3 separate regions of the Homo sapiens genome follow, and regions 1 and 3 are each linked to region 2. Evidence: fine-mapped QTL for protein levels in blood plasma. A gene starts in region 2. Each other region holds a variant in brackets. All regions are shown on one strand. Distances are from middle to middle.

The links. PIP is the chance, under the fine-mapping model, that this variant and not a neighbour inherited with it causes the effect. Protein levels are from antibody-based Olink assays in UK Biobank. Linkage for the fine-mapping came from a reference panel and not from the study's own genotypes, which makes the PIPs less certain.
Region 1: its variant is fine-mapped to the plasma level of the PTPRC protein (UK Biobank, PIP above 0.99).
Region 3: its variant is fine-mapped to the plasma level of the PTPRC protein (UK Biobank, PIP above 0.99).

The regions. Positions count from the first base shown.
Region 1 is chr1:197,370,658-197,376,865 of GRCh38, reverse strand. The region is part of intron 5 of CRB1 (crumbs cell polarity complex component 1); the gene reads right to left. Among named protein-coding and RNA genes, the nearest start is that of CRB1, 110 kb to the right of the region's middle. The variant G/T (reference allele first, on the strand shown) is at 2,416.
Region 2 is chr1:198,635,870-198,642,077 of GRCh38, reverse strand. PTPRC (protein tyrosine phosphatase receptor type C) reads right to left here and starts at 3,038. Exons shown (of 33, transcript NM_002838.5): 1 at 2,941-3,038; 2 at 2,737-2,852. The coding sequence starts at 2,809.
Region 3 is chr1:198,707,174-198,713,381 of GRCh38, reverse strand. PTPRC (protein tyrosine phosphatase receptor type C) reads right to left here. Exons shown (of 33, transcript NM_002838.5): 10 at 5,121-5,249; 11 at 3,558-3,695; 12 at 310-429. Among named protein-coding and RNA genes, the nearest start is that of PTPRC-AS1, 43 kb to the right of the region's middle. The variant C/T (reference allele first, on the strand shown) is at 2,496.

The DNA of each region.
Region 1 (6,208 bases), 1.3 Mb after region 2:
AGATCACACAAGGGCTTCCAAGAATATGTTAAGGAGTACAAGTTTTATTGAGAACATGTGAGCCACTGGACTGTTTGAATGGAAGACTCACATGATCTGATGCATATTATGTTACTACCAAAGCTGTGTGGAGAACTGATTTAGAAAGTCAAGAATGGAAGAACACCAAAACATTAGGCTATTGAAGTAGTTGAGGTGAGACATGACAGTGGCTTGGTCTAGAGTAGAAATGGTAGAGGTGGGAAGTATGATCGTGCTTGAAACACAGCTTAAAGGAGAAGCCAACAAACTGTGTGGAGGAATCAGATGTGGGATATTAAAGAAAGAGAGAAACCAAATACGGCTTTGAATTTATGGCCTGACCAACTGGGTGAATATGCTGTTACCACTTACTGAGATGGGGAAGAAGTGTTTTTGTCGTTTTGTGAATTTTTGTTTTGTTTTGTGATTATTTTGTTTGTTTGCTTTAGCTTAATTTTTTTCTTTTGGGTTTCATGAAGATAAAAAAATAAAAAGTTTTGCCTGGGTTATGTTATGTTTGAAAATCATTTTAGCTATCTAAATACAAAAGTTAAGGGAAGTTCAAGAGAGGAGCTAGGGCTGGAGACAAAAATTTAGATGTTGTAAACATCTATCTAAAATTTAAAGTCAAGAGATTACATGAGATTTTCCAAGGGGTGAAAAAATATGTTTAAGGATTGAATCCTAGGGGACTCCAGCATTTAGAGTCTAGAAAATAGAGGATATGCTAGCAATAGAATGATAGTGAACAAGAAGAAAAGGGGGCAGATGTTAAATAAAGAAATTATATCCAGCAGGTCAGAGAGAACAACTGTAAACTAGAGGCCAGTTAAGATAAGGACTTAAAATTAAGTTTTAGATTAGCAAATGGAAATTGTTGACAGGGAAGTTTTCACCGAAGTAACAAAAACTGCCTTAATGGGGAGGTTACCGGGAAGTGAAAAAGTAGAGAGTAAGTATACACATCTCTTTAGAGGAGGGTGGAATACAGAAGAGGATATCTGAGGAGGTGTATGCATTCTAAGGAGCATTTTTTTTCCAGAGGATAGATAGGCAAGCCAATTAGAATGATTTAGAATAGAGTGGAAAATCAATGATGCAAGATGTATAAAGAATAATTGCTAAAGATCCTGAATCATAGAGAATGAACAGGGTGCCATGCATAAGTAAACTTCAGGTGGGAATGTTGTAATGGAAAAGTAGTCCAAACATAGGCAGGAATTGGGAGGCGGCAAGTAAATGAGTGACAGATAGATAGGTAGGTGTTGGGAGAGTCCATATACCATGGGCACTGAGGATCACTGCAATTCTTGTTGGTTGTACCAAGAATGCAAGATCCTTACCATTCTACCCAGGCCATCTCTCAGGATTGGTTTTTGCAGCAAGCAACTTTGAAACATGAGGTTCAAAGTTGGGACAAAAAACAGATTGGCTTACTGCCTGCTATGAAAACAGATAATTTATCAAGCTATTGTTCCTCAGCTGTGATGCAAATCCACTGCAGGTACACCATCCATCTAGCAAATCACCCCTGTAAGACTTGAATGCAAAAGAAACCTACATAAACATGATACTCATGCAGTCTGCTGTGCTGTGAGTAATATAGTCATTTGTCTTTGACCCAAGAGTTTAGTGTCTTCTGCCAGCATCCATGAAACAGTAACAGGCTAACTCATTCCTTTATAAACAGGGTAAAATTAAATCTCAGACCCAACAGTTATGGCAACAAAGATGAGATCCTGAAAGAGACATGTCTTTCTGGAAGAAAAATGTTAAGAGCCTTTGGGATGGGTTCAGATGTAGAAGATGAGTTCCCTGGACTCCCACTGAAATGGTAGGTGAAAGAGGGAAGCAAAAGACCCCCAAGGTCCTGCCCATCAATCAGATTGGGATTAAAACAAACAGCCTTATATGGTGCCTTGGTTGTTTCTAGCTCTCCTCTAGGTGGGAGGAGGAAAAAACATTATTATGACAATAGGGCAGCAAGCCCTGTGGCTCCAGCCAGAAGGCAACGTATCTGTGACAGCTGAGTCAAGGAGTACTGAAAGATGAAATAAATGGAGTCAACAATGACATCATTTCAATTCAATATAGAACTTTAGTTAGAAAAAAAAATGATGATTTTATTTGATGATGATGAGTTTATTTGATTGAGCCACAAGCAAGAGAAATTGAATTGAAAGTGAAATTGAATGTAAAACCTTGTTTACTAGTGTCGAGCTGCTCTCTCCCTCTATGACCCCTGATTCCTCCCCCTCCCTATTCCACAACATCAACTTCTTTAAGAAGAAATAACATTGTTATATGAGATCTCAAGTTACTAGCTTACTCAGGTGTGGCACTGTTCTTGCTTGGTGACTACCCTTTGACAGGGCAGAGCACAATGGCATGCAG[G/T]GGGGGCAAGAAAAAAGGGGTCCTCTGGGCCCTGACACTCATCAGATATCAGGATATACATGGATAGGAAGCAGCTCTGGCACTTGGTCACCAGCCCCTTAGAAAGGACCAAGCCTTTTCCCACGTCCACTCCCATAGGCTAATCTCCCCATCATCCTCCATTCCTTGCACTCCCAACTGGGGGATAGTATGGTTTTCTGGTGGCTGTTGCTATAACCCCTAATGAGAACAACTAGAATCAAATGGATTACCCAGCATCTATCTAGATGGCTTCCATCATTATCTGGATCCATCCTCTTACCAGAAAACATATCCACTACCACGAACTACAGCAAAGGACTATATGTTTCTAATCTAGAAACTGCATACCAAAGGAGACTCCTGCCAAAAATTGGCCTGATTGTTTTGCAGTAAAGGAGGCCACATTACAAGGAGCATTTTCCCTGCTCACTTCTAGAAAATTGGCTGTGTCAGATCTCTGACCCTCTCTTGGGACTACCATTGGTGCCTTGCTAATATTGACATATTTTTAGATTATTTTGCTGCTATTTCAGTTTGATAATCTGATTCTTATTTTCAGTTTTCAAGACCATCTACAATCTGACAATGGTGTATTTTTGTCATAAAGGCCACCTAGCAATGGGCCAGTAGTAAACATATTCAATGGACATTCCACACTCTTATCATTCTCTGATAAGGCTGCTGGCATCATTGAGATATGGAATAGACTTTTTGGAAACCAATCCTGAAGATTTCTGACTCTCCCTCCTTTCTGTATCTACCTTCTTTGCCTCTTTCTGGCCCACAGATTTTATTAAAACAGTTTATTAAGGCTGTTTGAGCATTAAATATGGCCATGGGCAGGAAAGATTTGTCTCCTGTTGGCCAACTCCTAGGTAATGATCAAGATGGATGGGTAGAAAAATTATGTAAACTTATTTTGAAAATTCATGATTATGCCTTGACCATTTATGAACCTGAAGTGTATTTTCTTCCCCTAGTGACAACCTCATGTCAGCCTGATTTGTACACACTTTGAAGGGCAGCCACATCTAAAGGGGAGACTAAGAGATTCAAACTTAACTTGATGTAGCTACCTGGATTCTTTTATTGAATTAACATGGTCTTAGATCATAAAGACAATGAACACTGGTTGAATATACTATTCACCAACTAGTATAATTACTTATAGTAACCTAACTGGACTAAGTGGGAAATATAATGAATGAATCTCAGTAAATATTTTTTAAAGTGACCTATTCCTATTCATGTCTGACCTCTCTGGACAAAAGGTATTGGTATGAGCAGATGATTGGAGAAGAGGTAAAGTTATAGCTACTGGGTTGGGACACCCTAGTTTCATGGCCATGGAGGGAGAATAACAATTCTAGCACCCGAGCACAGATCACTTTAAACCCCAGGCAGTTCAGGGGAGAGAGGCACTTAGGCTTCTTATTCCTTAGATTCAGCAATGCAGGCTGGCAAAACAATTGTATGGTCTAGCTGAATCTAGGAGCAGCTGCAGTTGACAATCTAAACTCACTACAGGATTTGTCATCCCTGTCCAGGTGTTATAAAAACACCAAAAGTCTTGCAAACTTGGCTGGTCCTAAACTACTTCACCATAGCTGACACCACTAATGGAAGCTCCTGAACTGCCTCCTCCTCAGCCTTGTATGCGTACAAAGAGATAGGTCCCACAACTTTGTTTCAGTTTTTTTATTTGTTTTTTTTTTTTAAAGAGACAGAGTCTCATTATATTGCCTAACCTGGTCTCAAACCTCCTGCCTTGGCCTCCCAAAGCACTGAGATTTCAGGTGTGAACCACTGTGCCCAACCTCAATCTTAATAACATATATTCATACGCTTTTCCTAATACTCAGGCAGCTTAAGTGTTGCCATAAATGGCAATGGGAGCTGCAAGCGATGCTTCTGTTGTACTGAATTAACCAAACCAATGTAACAAAGGTATAAATCAATTTTAACCAGAAATTCTGAACTAGAGTCTGTCCCTTTGTGTTATATGTTTGTATGTGGGGGAATGTCTCTCCTTTGGGGGTTAGTGTTGCTCGTTTATTGCCCCTGTCATTATTGGTAATGACATCAAAGATCAGTATGTCAATCTAAGCTCCCTTACGTGGGTCACAATGGATAACTGACTGGCTTTAGACTACTTTCTGGCTATCTAAAGTTAAGATGATGATTGGTGCCCCTGGGACTTATGTACAATTGGCTGAGTCCAGGGCCCTGGGGAGTAGAGTTGAAATGTATACTACAGGTTGACTTCATCTTATTGCTTAGAGTCCTCTTGATAGTCTCCTTAATTAAATGCTGCATGAGGCAAATTGAACAGATTTAATCCCAGTCTCTGTCAGTCACATTAAGCAGGGTGGCTCATGGAGTGGCATATTCATATGAAAATTCGAGTTCAGCCAAGAACAAGTGGGGTCATGGGATGGATTGCTGGAAGAAGCAACTCATCATGGGCCCTGTGTGTCCTGGCAGTTTCTTACTGGGAATCCTAAGAATGCAAGGCCCTGACTGATCTTTACCTGCCCATTTCTTGGGGTTGGTTTTGCAGCAAGCATCTCTGAAGAATGAAGTAATGTCTCCCTCTGGGACAAGGAGCAGGCTTCTTACTGCTTACCGTAAAAGCGATGAATTCCCCAACTTGATGTTCATCAGTTGCGACAAAAATCTGTCTGTGCAGTACTCATCTGGGCCCATGTAGTACCAACCCTGTGGGAGTTGGGTGCAAGGGTAATTCATGTAAACCTGAGGCTCATGCTGCTGGTTGTGCATTTTTTCCTGACACAAAGTTTTATGTCTTTTGCCAGCATTCACAAAACAGGAACAGGATAACGTATGAGCTTGTAAAAAGGATAAAAATCAAACCTCAGAACTGACAACACTTTTGGTGGCAGGAAGATACTATTTTCCTGATGAAATTAGACTTGATGATCAACTTAGGGTAACAATGAGGGAGGAGGTATTGGAAGTTTGAAGAAATAGAAGATTTAAAAAGGCTCATCTTGGGAAGTAGAGCTCTAGAAGGATTTTTATCTAGTGCTAAAGGCCCCATGAGATTTGGCACCATAAATTTAAAGTGACACTCAACAGTTCAGTGTGTGGCTTGTGAGTTTTTCTCCAACCACATTCAAATTGGTTGTAAGTGTGGAGAAGGTAGAGGATTGATTTAACCATAATTGTACCTTTGTCAGGCAAGTACAATGAAGAGAGAAAGAATCAGGTGAGCCGAAGGTATATGCAAGGGAATAATTATAGTGCTGGACCTTGAAACCTTAGCTGAGACAGAAGGTAAGTGAGGCAATGACTGGAAAAAAAGTGGTTAAGACAACAGACTAGGCTCAACGGAAAAAGTTCTAAAGTATATGAACTGGAATAATTGGAGGTTCTGGTCATAAAACAGAATGATTTAAAGTGATGTTTTTAGGAAGGTTATCAGCGATAATAAGGCCTAAGTTATGACCAAAGAAGTGGGCAGAAGTGTGTGTGGCATGGCAGTCACAGTCATTGGAAATAAGGATTTCAAATAACAGAGATAATGGTTTGTATCGGTTGTCTACACGGATGCTGAAATCCTCAAAATGATGACAGGAGTAAGATATTAAGGTAATCAGTGACTGAGGAGAAGGTACCGTGAGGTAGGAAGAATGTTGCAACCAAAAGAGGTAGTGAGCAGTGCAGTTCAAAGACATGTACTTCAACATGAGGTGGGTTTTTGATGTAGGCATTTAATGCTATAAACTTTCCTCTTAACATTGCTTTTGCT
Region 2 (6,208 bases):
CAATGATAAAGGTCACAGGCAGGTTTTTAGTAGGACATTTTTTTTCAAATTAATAAGTAATTCTAATCACATTCCCAAATCTCTAAATTATGGAGTATTTAGAACTTAATAGGACTGCTTACCAAATTCAATTAAATAATTTTCATTGAATGTCTGTGATGTGCAAGGCACAGTCCATGTTTATAACATGAGATATATATTTTTAATACAGATGGAAAAATGAAGAATTATGTCCAGGAAATGAGTCTTAACTGTTATGACTCATAACAAAACTCATCATATACCTCACATACCATAACTCATATACTCCTAACTGCCATGCTATAGTGTGGTAGATCTGCCTGGCATTACAACTTTATTAGAACCAGAGAACACTCACCTTCACCTGCCTTCTTAAAACCATCATTGTCCCCTAACATTATTTAGAAATTCTAAACAAAGTTTGGCTTCCAGTTGCCATGGCAAAGAGGCACAGAGCAAGAGGATTAGGAAGTCTTGAGTAAAACTGAACCCTGCCTGGTTGTTGCCGTGGCAAAGATTAACTTTGGCCTTGTCCGTGTGTGCATTTTAGATATTAAATAAAATATTTGAATTATGCATAGAGTTACCATTGATGGCTCTCTACATTTGGCTCTATTTCTTTATGCCTTTACAGCATACAATATAAATTTTGTTCCCCAAAAGTTTATTATTTCCTGTAGGCACTAAACTAATTTTAACACGTTAAAATGAAACATAGAATCCAACTCATTTGTTGCTAAAAAAGAAAAATAAATAATTTAAAGCATTAAGAATTTTCCAAATTATACATTAAATCACAAAATGTTTCTTGCAACTTGAAAGGATTATAAACAATATTTGCAGATACAAATGATTATATCTGTATATGTTTTTCCACAAATAAGCATATATCTCAGGGAGTCTACAAATGTCTTTTAGAAAAATGTTTGCTCTCAATATTTATGTGAGCAACTGAAGATAAAGTTGAGTTTTCAAAATAAATTTATGTATATCCATTTATTTGCTATGGTATAAATCATTCAGCAAAGTTGATATAAAGGTTTCTAGACCCCATCATATTATTTCAATTATAAATTCAAAGATGTGTCTTATGGTTAAAAAAACATCCTGTAATAGAATGAGTTGAATTTTTATTCACAAAGGAAATATTTCACACTCTGATTTAAGCATATAATAGGATATTTGGTCTATTCAGGAGGTTGGGAAGTTTGCCTGGAATAAAAAGCAATGGAGCTAGACCTGAAGAAAATAATAGAAGTTAAATGAATATGAAGAGAAGAAAAATATTCTGGCTTACAAAATGTCTCAGTATTTCTTTATGCTCATTTAAAAATGCTTTTCGACATTTCCTGAGTGGGAATTTTAAATGAAAATCTGTTCTGATTTGTGATAATATACATATATCACTTCATTGAGATTATTATTCTTTATAATTTACTTTTTATTATCATAAGCTTTAAAGGGATGGTAACTTGATAAACATTTTCTGTACTAAGACAAATGCTGCAAATATATAGATTTTTAAAAAATTCACCTTTGCAATAAAAAGCAAAACAGCCACAACAACAACAACAAAAATCTTATGTTGTTTTTCTTTCCTCTTTCTTTCCTCTCCAAATAGAAATTGTCAATGTAACATGCTCAAGAGGTAGCTACTTCCCTGACTTTCAGAGGAAAGAAGAACGGTAAAAGTCAAAAAAAGACTTCAAAGTGAATTGTAATAAGCAAGTTGTTTTAAAATACTTTTTATACTTTTTGGAATTTCTACAAAAATTTTATTTTCAATGTCCTTTTAGATACTACATCATAAAGAGAAATATTAAATATTAATTATTAGTTACATTCTATAATCTATTGAAATGTACTCATGATTCATATTGACGCCGCTCAAGAACTATCCATTGAATAGACCATAAATGTGCAAAGATTTCAAACTTTAATAGGCACTGGAAGTCCAACTAGTTGCATTTTCCTACTGAATACAGCATTTGCATGATTTTTAAGAGTTTAAATATTTCTATCTCATCAAGGCTGTAATATTTACCCACCACCCAGGAAGGGCGGTGGCTCCACAAGAATTTCTAAAGCAAAAATGTATTAAAACTATTAACAAGAAACTAAAAACTTGATTTAAAATACATTCTGTGATAAAAATTGCAGAAAGTTAATATTTTACTAAATATCTCAATATATTTTTGAACTATTATATACCCAAGTATTCAATAAAATATGTCAATTAAATTCAAAATTTGAGGAAGCAAACTTCAGGTCTGAAAAGAGGGAGTGGCTTACATACAACCAAAGCTGTTTTATGACTTTTTAAAAGATCAAATTTGTTAAAAGAATAAAAACTCACTTATTTTATCATTAAAAAATTCTCAGGCTTTTATAAATGTGTGTTATTGTCACTTTGGAAGTTAAGTAATAATGTTGCTTTTGTAATATCTTTGAACAGTTGTAAATAAAGATACAGATAGACATTGCTTTCCTTTTAAAATTGTATTTTTTGTCCCGAAACATTTATGTCTTTGTAAACAGAAACAATGTATTCTGTCACACAACTAGCTATGTCTCCCTGAGACAACAATCTTGATGGTTTACAGCAGGCTTCTCACTTCCAGTTACCAACACATTTAAATTATTTTTATGTCTATTTCAAACATTCCTCCAAAAGAGAAAAAATAATTTAAAAAATATTAATATCCTTGTACTTACCTGTCACAAATACTTCTGTGTCCAGAAAGGCAAAGCCAAATGCCAAGAGTTTAAGCCACAAATACATGGTCATATCTGGAAGTCAGCCGTGTCCCTAAGAAACAGCATGCGTCCTTCTGAAAAGCAAAATAATTGTTATCTCTGTAGAAGTTTTTCTCTGTAAAAACGAATCAAAAATGTAAAAGTAAATAAATAAATGCATACTCTCCACTGTTGTCTTATCAGACGAGGAACAATTTCCTCCTCTGTTACCCTAAGAACAAACCACTTGCTAGCTGCATGAACTGCTAGGTGATGATGTCAGATTCGGTTTTACTAACTTCTCCAAAAATACTGTAAGGGTCCTCTTTGCAGGAAGTCAAAAAAGTTGTTCTAAGTCAGTAGAATGGCATTGCACTTCCTTAATTCAAGTAATTACACCAAGTTAGAAAGCCTTTTAAAAGATTTTCCCATCAAGGAAGATGTTTTTAAACCATCCAAATAATGCTCCTTTACAGTATCCATTACCATTTTTTTTAAATTAAATCCCCACAAAATAATCAATAATTTTCTTACTTAAGAGATGACAAACAGATTCAGCATAAGTATAACAAAATGGGTGTTGGCAAGATGACTTAGTAGAAAGTATCAATATTTGACTTACTGAGACGGCCAAATGAATGAAAAAACTACTAATCTGGTTATTTTTGGCAACCCAGTATCATTTACCATTAGGGCATTCAAAACTCAGCAATATGACAGTTTTAGCAGTAAAACCCATTTCTTATGCAAAAGCACTTTCAGACAGCTTAACAGTTTTGCCCCAAATCTTTCACAGATATCCTTGTGAAGCTAGGAGTGGAATCAGAATGTCATTTCTACTATAGTTACAGCAAACCCTGCTTCCAAAAACTAATGTTTCTGTGACTTAAGATGTTCTTGGCGCTACTGATGAGGGAAAGGACAGTGAAAACCAAGAGATACCTTTAACAAAAGTTAACTTGTTTCCTTTTTCTCAGCAATACTTTTTCAACTTTTTTAACAAATAAGACAATGAATTGTATTAACACAATGCTCTTCACCATTCTGATGTTCTTAGTTAAGTCCATCTATTAGGAAAATGCTTACTGGCAAAAAGTATAAATTCAACAATACAATTAGATGAATTGGTTTTATTAATACAATATCTATATGCCTTTAAAAATAAAAGTACACACATGTGCAACTCATTTATTTGAACAATAGATAATGCTTGGGGGACTTTTAGACAGACAGAGCCCTTGTGGTAATTCTGCAAACCCTAGTTTGGAAGCATTATTGTAGGGTTCTTATATTTAAGTAAATAAATCTTTTGATACTTACAAACTTTTTTGTTTTACTCTTACATTGGCTGCTAGGAACTACAGAGCCAAATTTCTATCACACTTTGTGCAAATGGAAATAACCCCACAGCTTAAACTCTAGGTAATAACCTTTTAATAAGATTGTAGTTAAGAATATTATTTTACTATGATTATTATTATATTTAACTTATGGAGCACTTACTATGTGCAGGAACTATGCTTTGCACTTTACATATATTGTATAATTTGTACGATACCCTTGAGCTAGATAATGTTATTATTCCCCATTTTATCTGTGATGTTCAGAGAGGTTAGTTGAGTTGCCTAAGATCTTGCAGCTAGGATGTAGACAAGCTATATTTAGAACCCAAGTCTCCAAGTTTAATTTTGCTTTCCTTACTCACCTTACTATTGCCCTTTATTTTTCTCATCCCTTTTACCAATCTTTTTGTACTATGTAAGTTTATAATACTCGAAAAGATAGACCTTTGAATCAGTGAAAATGAAATTATTCTCTTTTTGCAAATGTATTTTTAAATAAGATAACTGTGCAAGTAAGCACTAATTTTCATGTGGGTAGGCCTAATAAAACATCAGTGTCAGAACTCATGGATTTGAATACTCAGCTCCTCAGCCTATGTCTTAAAATACATTTGCAACAGAAAACTCTTTGGGGATTTGCTTTAAATATCTTTAAGCAAATACTTGTGTTCTGTGAGCTTGCTGTTATGGCAGAATATTTGGCAAAATTAGAGGCCAGGAGAAAAGTGTATATGATCTTTTAAAAGGAAGAAAAGTATATAAAATATACTCTATAACAATGTGAGTTTAGCAGCCTTAAACGGACATTTTAAAAGGGATTTGTGGCTTTAAAAAAATAGTAAGAAGTTAGGAGATTCAATTCCATTTCAGACAGGTGAGAAGACAGATTCTACCCAAGGAATCCAAGATAGATTAGCAACAAATGAGTTGCATTATATGTGTTAATCCAACACATATATAATGTTTTAACATATTCATTGTGTTAAAATTGAGTTTAGTGTCTATAGGAAATACTAGAATTTTAAGCAGCAAAATCTGTACTGTGTATTATAAAGGTGTAAAGACATACAGCTTGAAATACAGAGACATCAGCAGATGAATGTATATACAATTCTGATGGCTCAGAATGGAGACAGTGGCAACCCAGAGGTTTGTTAGCCTGAGGTCCAGGCTGTCAGGAGGGTAGGCAAGAGGGAAGGCCCTAGCAGCTTGTTAGGAGACAGAGCCAGGTTGTCCTTGATGGTATACTACACTAAGCCAGACATCCAGGAAGGACTCCGGGTAGCAGCTTGTCTTTCCACAGGGCATCTGGGGAAATTTCTACTGTATCACATACAGGCCTGGCATCCAAGCCTTCCGCTTGCATCAGCAGAAAACTCTCAAAGAAAACAGGAGGAGTATTTATGACATACTGATGTGATCCACTCTCACTGATTCCCAGAGGGAGGGTGGGCTGGTTGCTGATAAATGGGTATTTTGCAAAGAACAACTGAGTCTAGGAAATGGGCAGGAAGTAACACCAGATTTCATACATAGTAAATACAATGGCACTTGTTGAGTAGCTGAAAACAGTATGTATCCAAAGTCATCTCAAATTTTGATGAAGAAAATTTCAAAATAATCATAGTTAATCAACTTACAATAGATTTTTAAAAGCTTAAAAACTTAATATTTACTTAAATCAATAAAGTCATTTTCCAGATTTTTAAGGCTACCTACAGTAGAGGTTATATAAAGACAGAAACAGATTACAAGTTAACTACAGAGGCAGATGTTACTCATTTGTTCATGCATTCATTCACTCATTCATTCAACAAATACAGAGCAAGTTCCTAATGTAATCCAGTCATTTTACCTGACATGAGGAAAAAATGGTGAGCAAAAACAGGCATGCTTTCTTTCCTATCTACACTTTAGTGGAAGACACAATAATTAATTATCCAGTCATCATGACACTTTCATCACAAAGGCAATACTTCCACACTGTGATTTAAGCATATAATAGGATATTTGGTCTATTCTGGAGGTTGGGAAGTTTTCCTGGAATAAAAAGCAATGGAGCTAGACCTGAAGAAAATAAGTTAAATGAGTATGAGGAGAAGGAAAGT
Region 3 (6,208 bases), 71 kb before region 2:
TTACATAATACTTGCAAGACAGAAATGAGTGTTGTCATCCAGAGGTTTTCTGTCTCTAGGCTTTGGAGCACAAAGATTTAAACTAAGACCAAGAAGGACAAGCAAATATTTAGAATGTTCTGGATTTTAGTCATTTCTGGGGCTGGAAAGCTTTGAATGAGTGGAAGCAATTCTAAGATCAGGGAGTATACTATGCCTATGCAGTCTCTAAGCAGAGAGCTTTGTGACTCACTGGCTCAATAAAAATTTCTAGTACTTTCAAATTCTTGATTTCTCTTTTCTGATGAAATTAAATTCTACACAAATTACCTGTCTCTTTTATATAACAGAGGGTAAAATTATGAAATGATCTTTGAGGGGGATTCCAGGTAATTACTCCTTGATGTGCAGCTTCACTTCTACAAAAAATAATCTGAGGCTCTCCTGGACCTGTTAAAAGAATAAGAATGTTATGTAATATGAAAAATAAGACATGGATAAAGCATTCTTCATATTATAAGCATGCATTATTGATAACCATATTTTGACAAATGATGAATTCAAAATAAAATTTAAAGAAATGCATCTGGGCTCATTTAATTTGTTTTAGAGTAAATTCCTTTAACAAAGTAAATGTCACACCAGATTGGCACTGTGAAACCTAAGCATTCCACTGACTTGAAGATATCTAAGAACCCCCTCTTCCTTTCATATACATTATTCATATATATTCTTGCCCAGATACTACCTAAAAATCCTGGAATTTGTAGATTTTGCTGTGCTAAAAATCTGGCATTCATAGCACCAATAAATTTAGCAGTCATTGAGTAGCACTTGTCATTGCTTCCAGTAACTAGTCATTTGAAACTGAGAAAAACTGATAAATGTTTAAATAAAATGTCTGAAGTAAAATTTACATTAAAATGTACCCATTTGAGATACAGTTTAATGCATTTTTAACAAATGTATACATCCACATAACCAACACCACAATCAAGATAAAGAAAATTTCTGTGATCCCAAAATGTCCTTCTGTGGTACTTCCCAGTCAACTCAGCTCCTTTGACCAGACTCACGTACCTTCTGATCAACTTTCTGTTAACTACAGATTAAGTTTGTCTTTTTACCCATTGCATGTAAATAAAATGAAACAAACAGTAAGTACTTTTTCACTCCTAACATATTGCACTCAATGTAATGTTCTGAAGATTCATTCACTTAGTTGCATGTGTCATAGTTAGAATTTTAAAAAATTATCAGTAGTTATTGTAAAGATACACCACATTTTACCTAGGATTCAACAGTGAATACACATTTGGGCTGTTTCCAGGTTTTGGCTACTATGAATGCATCTGCTTTGTCATGTTTCCTCTTTGGTAAATACCTGGAGTGAAATTCCTGGGTCATGGCTGCACATCCTGACCAATAGTTAGTAGTATCCGTATTCTTAAGTTTAGCCATTTTAATGGATGTATAGTATTATCATCTCAGTGTTGTTTTAATTTGTATTTCTCAGTTAACTAATGATGCTGAGCATCATTTAATGTGCTTATTAACCACCTGTGTATCCTCTTTTGTGAAGTATATATTAAAAATGTTTGTCCATTTTCAATTGAGCTGTTTTAGTCCTTATTTTGCAGCTGAAAGAGCTCTCTGTATATTCTGGAAAAACTTCTGTTGTTGAAAAAATTAATTTTGATTTTTTACAAACTATTTATTGCTTTTTTATTTCCTTAGTGGCCTCATCCAAAGAGCAGGAATATTCAATTTTTATGCACTCCAATTCATCAAAAAAGTTTTATGTTTCTTGCTTTTGTGCCCTAGGAAATCTTTGCTAAAGCTACACATTTTCTCCTATGTCTTTGATTAGAATTTTTTAAATTATAGCTTTAGTATTTAGGTCTGGAATCCATTTTGAATTAATTTTTGTGTTTGTTGAGAGGTGAGAGCTGATGTTCATTTTTTTTCTACAGAGATACCAGGATCATTAGTTGAAAAGACTATTTTTCCCCCACTGAAAACATTTTGTGCTGTTTTCAAATATAAAACATAGTTTTCTGGGATTTCTATTTTGTTGCATTGATTATAAAGAATGTAATAATTGTGGTACTAATAAAAATACATTAAAATTTTCTAGTTATGCTGAGGATATAGTTTTTACATAGTTTTATTTGCTGTTCTTGTAGCTATATATTATTTTGGAGAAGTATGAGGAGACAAGGATTTAGGCAGCCTCTTTAGCCTTCAACTATCCTTTTTACATAAAACTTAGAATCACGGGCCGGGCATGGTGGCTCATGCCTGTAATTCCAGCACTTTGGGAGGCCAAGGTGGGCGGATCATGAGGTCAGGAGATTGATCTCTACTAAAAATACAGAAAATTAGCAGGGCGTGGTGGCACGCACCTGTAGTCCCAGCTACTTGGGAGGCCGAGGCAGGAGAATTGCTTGAACCCAGGAGTCAGAGGTTGCAGTGAGCCGAGATCACGCCACTGCACTCCAGCCTGGGCAACAGAG[C/T]GAGACTCCGTCTCAAAATCAAAACAAAACAAAATTTAGAATTACATTTATAAGTTTTGTCAAAAATTTCTCAATATTATCATTAATAAACAAATTCAGTAATGTGACAGACTGCAAGATCAATACAGAAAAATCAATTGTACTTTTGTACATTAGTAACAAACCTGAAAATGTGATTAAGAAAACAACAGCATTATAACCAGGAATAAACTTAAACTAGAAATAAATTTAACAGAAGAATTATAACACTAATGCACTGAAAACTACAAAACATTTTGAAAATAAATTAAAGAAGACATAAATTAATGGAAAGATATCTTGTGTTCATGAACTGGAAGACTAACATGGTTAAGATGGCAATATTTCCCAAATTTATCCACAGATTCAATGCAATCCCTGAAAGAATCCCAGATGGCTTCTTTATAAAAATTGAAAAGTTGATCCTAAAATTCATACAGAATTCCAAGTTCCCTTAGATATTCTAAACAATCTTGAGGAAAAGTAACAATTTGGGGGAACTTACAGTTTCCAGTTTCAAAATTTACTACAAAGCAGCAGTAATCGACAGTGTAAGTATGACATATAAATCAATAAAATAAAACTGAAAGTTCAGAAATAAACCCATCATTATGGTCAACTAATTTTTGATAAGAATGGCAAGACTATTCAGTGGGGGAATAAATAGTATTTTCAGCAAATGGCGCTGGAAAAATTAGATGGCCATATGCAACAAAATGAAATTAGACTGTTACCTCACACCATATACAAATATTAACTCAAAGTGGGTAACAGAGCTAAATTTAAGAGCCAATGCTATAAAATTTTTAGAACAAAACATATGGATAAATCTGCATGACTTGGCAATGGACTTTCATATACGACACCAAAAACATAAGCAAAAGAAGTAAAAATAGATAAATTGCGCTTCATTGAAATAAAAAGCATATGCTTAAAAAGTATCAAAAACAGCAAAAAGACAATTCATTTCCTATGATTCTCAAATAATTATAAGAACATGAAGAGAGAAGCAATTTTACATATAAATGCAAGTAACATACTCACTCCCAAAATCTGTTTTAATAATTTTACTTGCGTTAGTAAACTTGTGGTTATTATAGAGTATTTCTGAGTCACACTTATACTCATGTTCGGGTTCAAGGTTTTCTAATTTAATTTCTTTATTATCAAATATCATATTACCTGAAATAAAGAAATATTTCGAATGAATATATCGATGCAATATTTCACGCACACATTTATTTTCTAATTTCACATTTATAATTCTCTATTTAATATTTATCAGATTGAAACATCTGTGGAAATTACCAAAATAATAAAAAACCCTAAAAATAATTTTTACATTCAACTTTTATGAAAATACAGGCTGAGTTTCCCTTATTCAAAATTCCTGGCACCAGAAGTGTTTTGGATTTAGTTTTTTTTTTCAGATTTTGGAATATTTGCATTTAGATGATACAATATATTGGGAAGAGGACACAAGTTCAAATGCAAAATTCATTTATGTTTCATATATACCTCATATACATAGCTTGAGGTCATTTATTTTTCTCTGGGGATGCTGACTAAATTCTGTGTTATGTTTCTGCATTTTGACTATGACCAGTCACTTTAGGTCACGTGTAAAATTTTTCACTTGTTTGAGCCGCATCATGTTGGCACTCAAAAAGTACTGGATTCTGAGAACATTTTGGATTCTGGATTTTCAGATTAGGGATGCCCAATCTGTATATAGCAAATACAACTTAAAGTTGAAATTGCACCTCACCTAGTCTTCATCTAATAGATTGTCTAGAGAGAACATTTTATCATTGGTCTGTCATGATTGCTCTTCCTTTCCTTGTCTGCTTGCCTGATGGCCATGAATCTATACTATGGTGATTAGGTGATGATTACACCCAGCGCAATGCTCCATCCTCTATGTGTGTAGCTGTGGATATGCGTGCATGCGCATGCACACCTGAGCACATCTGTCTGTCATGCCAGCTATGGCCTGGCAGATGGCTTTAAGTCAAAGGGTGGGAGAGTTCACCTCATTAAATTCAAATACACTTTAAAAATACTATCTCAATTATTAGTTGCCTCAATTCAAATCCAAACATATCCCTAGATGCACTTGCTGTTCTTTTTCTGCTTTCTTCTTATTTAAGTGTTCTTGAACTTGTGTATGAATTTTGTTGATGCAGGATGGAAAAAGTAAACTCTTGAACCATACAATCCTGTATTTTTTTTCCTTACTTCATAACAGAGTTTGTGTATTATCATTTCCTTATAACACCCTTCTTTCATGATCTCTTCAACAATGCCTGTGTATAACAATTGCCAAGAAAATTATTGTAAATTAATTGACTTTCAATTTTTAGATATTTATTTTTCATGAAAAGTATTCATTTATTTTGTGAATTTGTTTGAATTGTATAGGTAATTTAATTATTTGACTCTAAATATACCACAGACCAAGAAAAAGACAAGAAAGAAAAAAGACAAACAGAGGGAGAACAAGAGAGGCAGGGAGGAAGAGAGAAAGGGCAGAGAGTAAGATTAAATAATATCTAGAACAACATTGTGCCACAAAAAAAAATTCTCTGGTCAATGTTATATTCTTACCACACTGAAATCTGTAGGTAATATTCTGTGTATCACAAGTAAAGGTTTCAATATTTTTCCATTTTAAACAAATAGTAGTATCTGCTTTTTCAACTTGTGTACAATCATGTAACTGAAACTTTTCAACCCCTGACAAGAAGATACAGAAATAAACTTGATTAGTATTTCATAATGTGTATCCTAAGCCCTCATTCATTCCTAACATGTCAGTTAAAGCCACTGAAATTATGCTAATGACATAGAATTTGGCAAGGATTGAGATTGCTATGGGAAAAGTCTAATAACTCTAGGGATTTGTTTCTTTTATTATTTACTTTATTATTTTTAGCACCATATATTTTGGTAGTGTTTCATTTATAAGTTATACCACGTTAAAAAATGAAATGCAAGCAAACATATTGATAAAATTGTAGCTTTCGCACATTTTAAAAAACACTCATTCCATTTTGTATTTTTGTTTTTATCTTAAATTTTTTGTTTACTCTTTACTTACTTTTAATTGAATGATTATTATAAAGTGTATTGGGAGTTTCCCTATTGGGAAATGCATTTTTAAGTATTGTCATCTTCTGTGTTTAATTGGTAATTTATCTCAGTAATATTTAGGGAAAATGAATAAATTAAATGGATTTTATTTTCAAAATACATTTGATGTTAACATATTTAAATGTTAACAAATTTATTAATAGTCTTGAATTATTAAATGATATGACTTTTTAAAAAAATTACACGGCTCTGGAATCCCTTTTCCAGAATGCATTTGGCTAAGAGATGCTTCCCCAGAGTCTGCCCGACGCCTGTCACCCCCTCCTCTTTCCAAGCAGTAGCTTAGCTGACAAAACCAACTTGATCTCACTAACATGACCATAACCTTCCTTTTTATGAATGTATTTTGGTTCTTCCCATACACATCAAATCCTTTATGTTTCTCCCTAATATATTTCAGATAAATTTGTACTTAAAAGAATAAATATATGTACATATATAATTAATACTTCATTTAAGTAGAGGAGAATAAAGAAAGCTTGCAGACAATCACTTAGCAGGATAAACTATATTTAGTGCACATAAACATCTCCCTGTTAAAT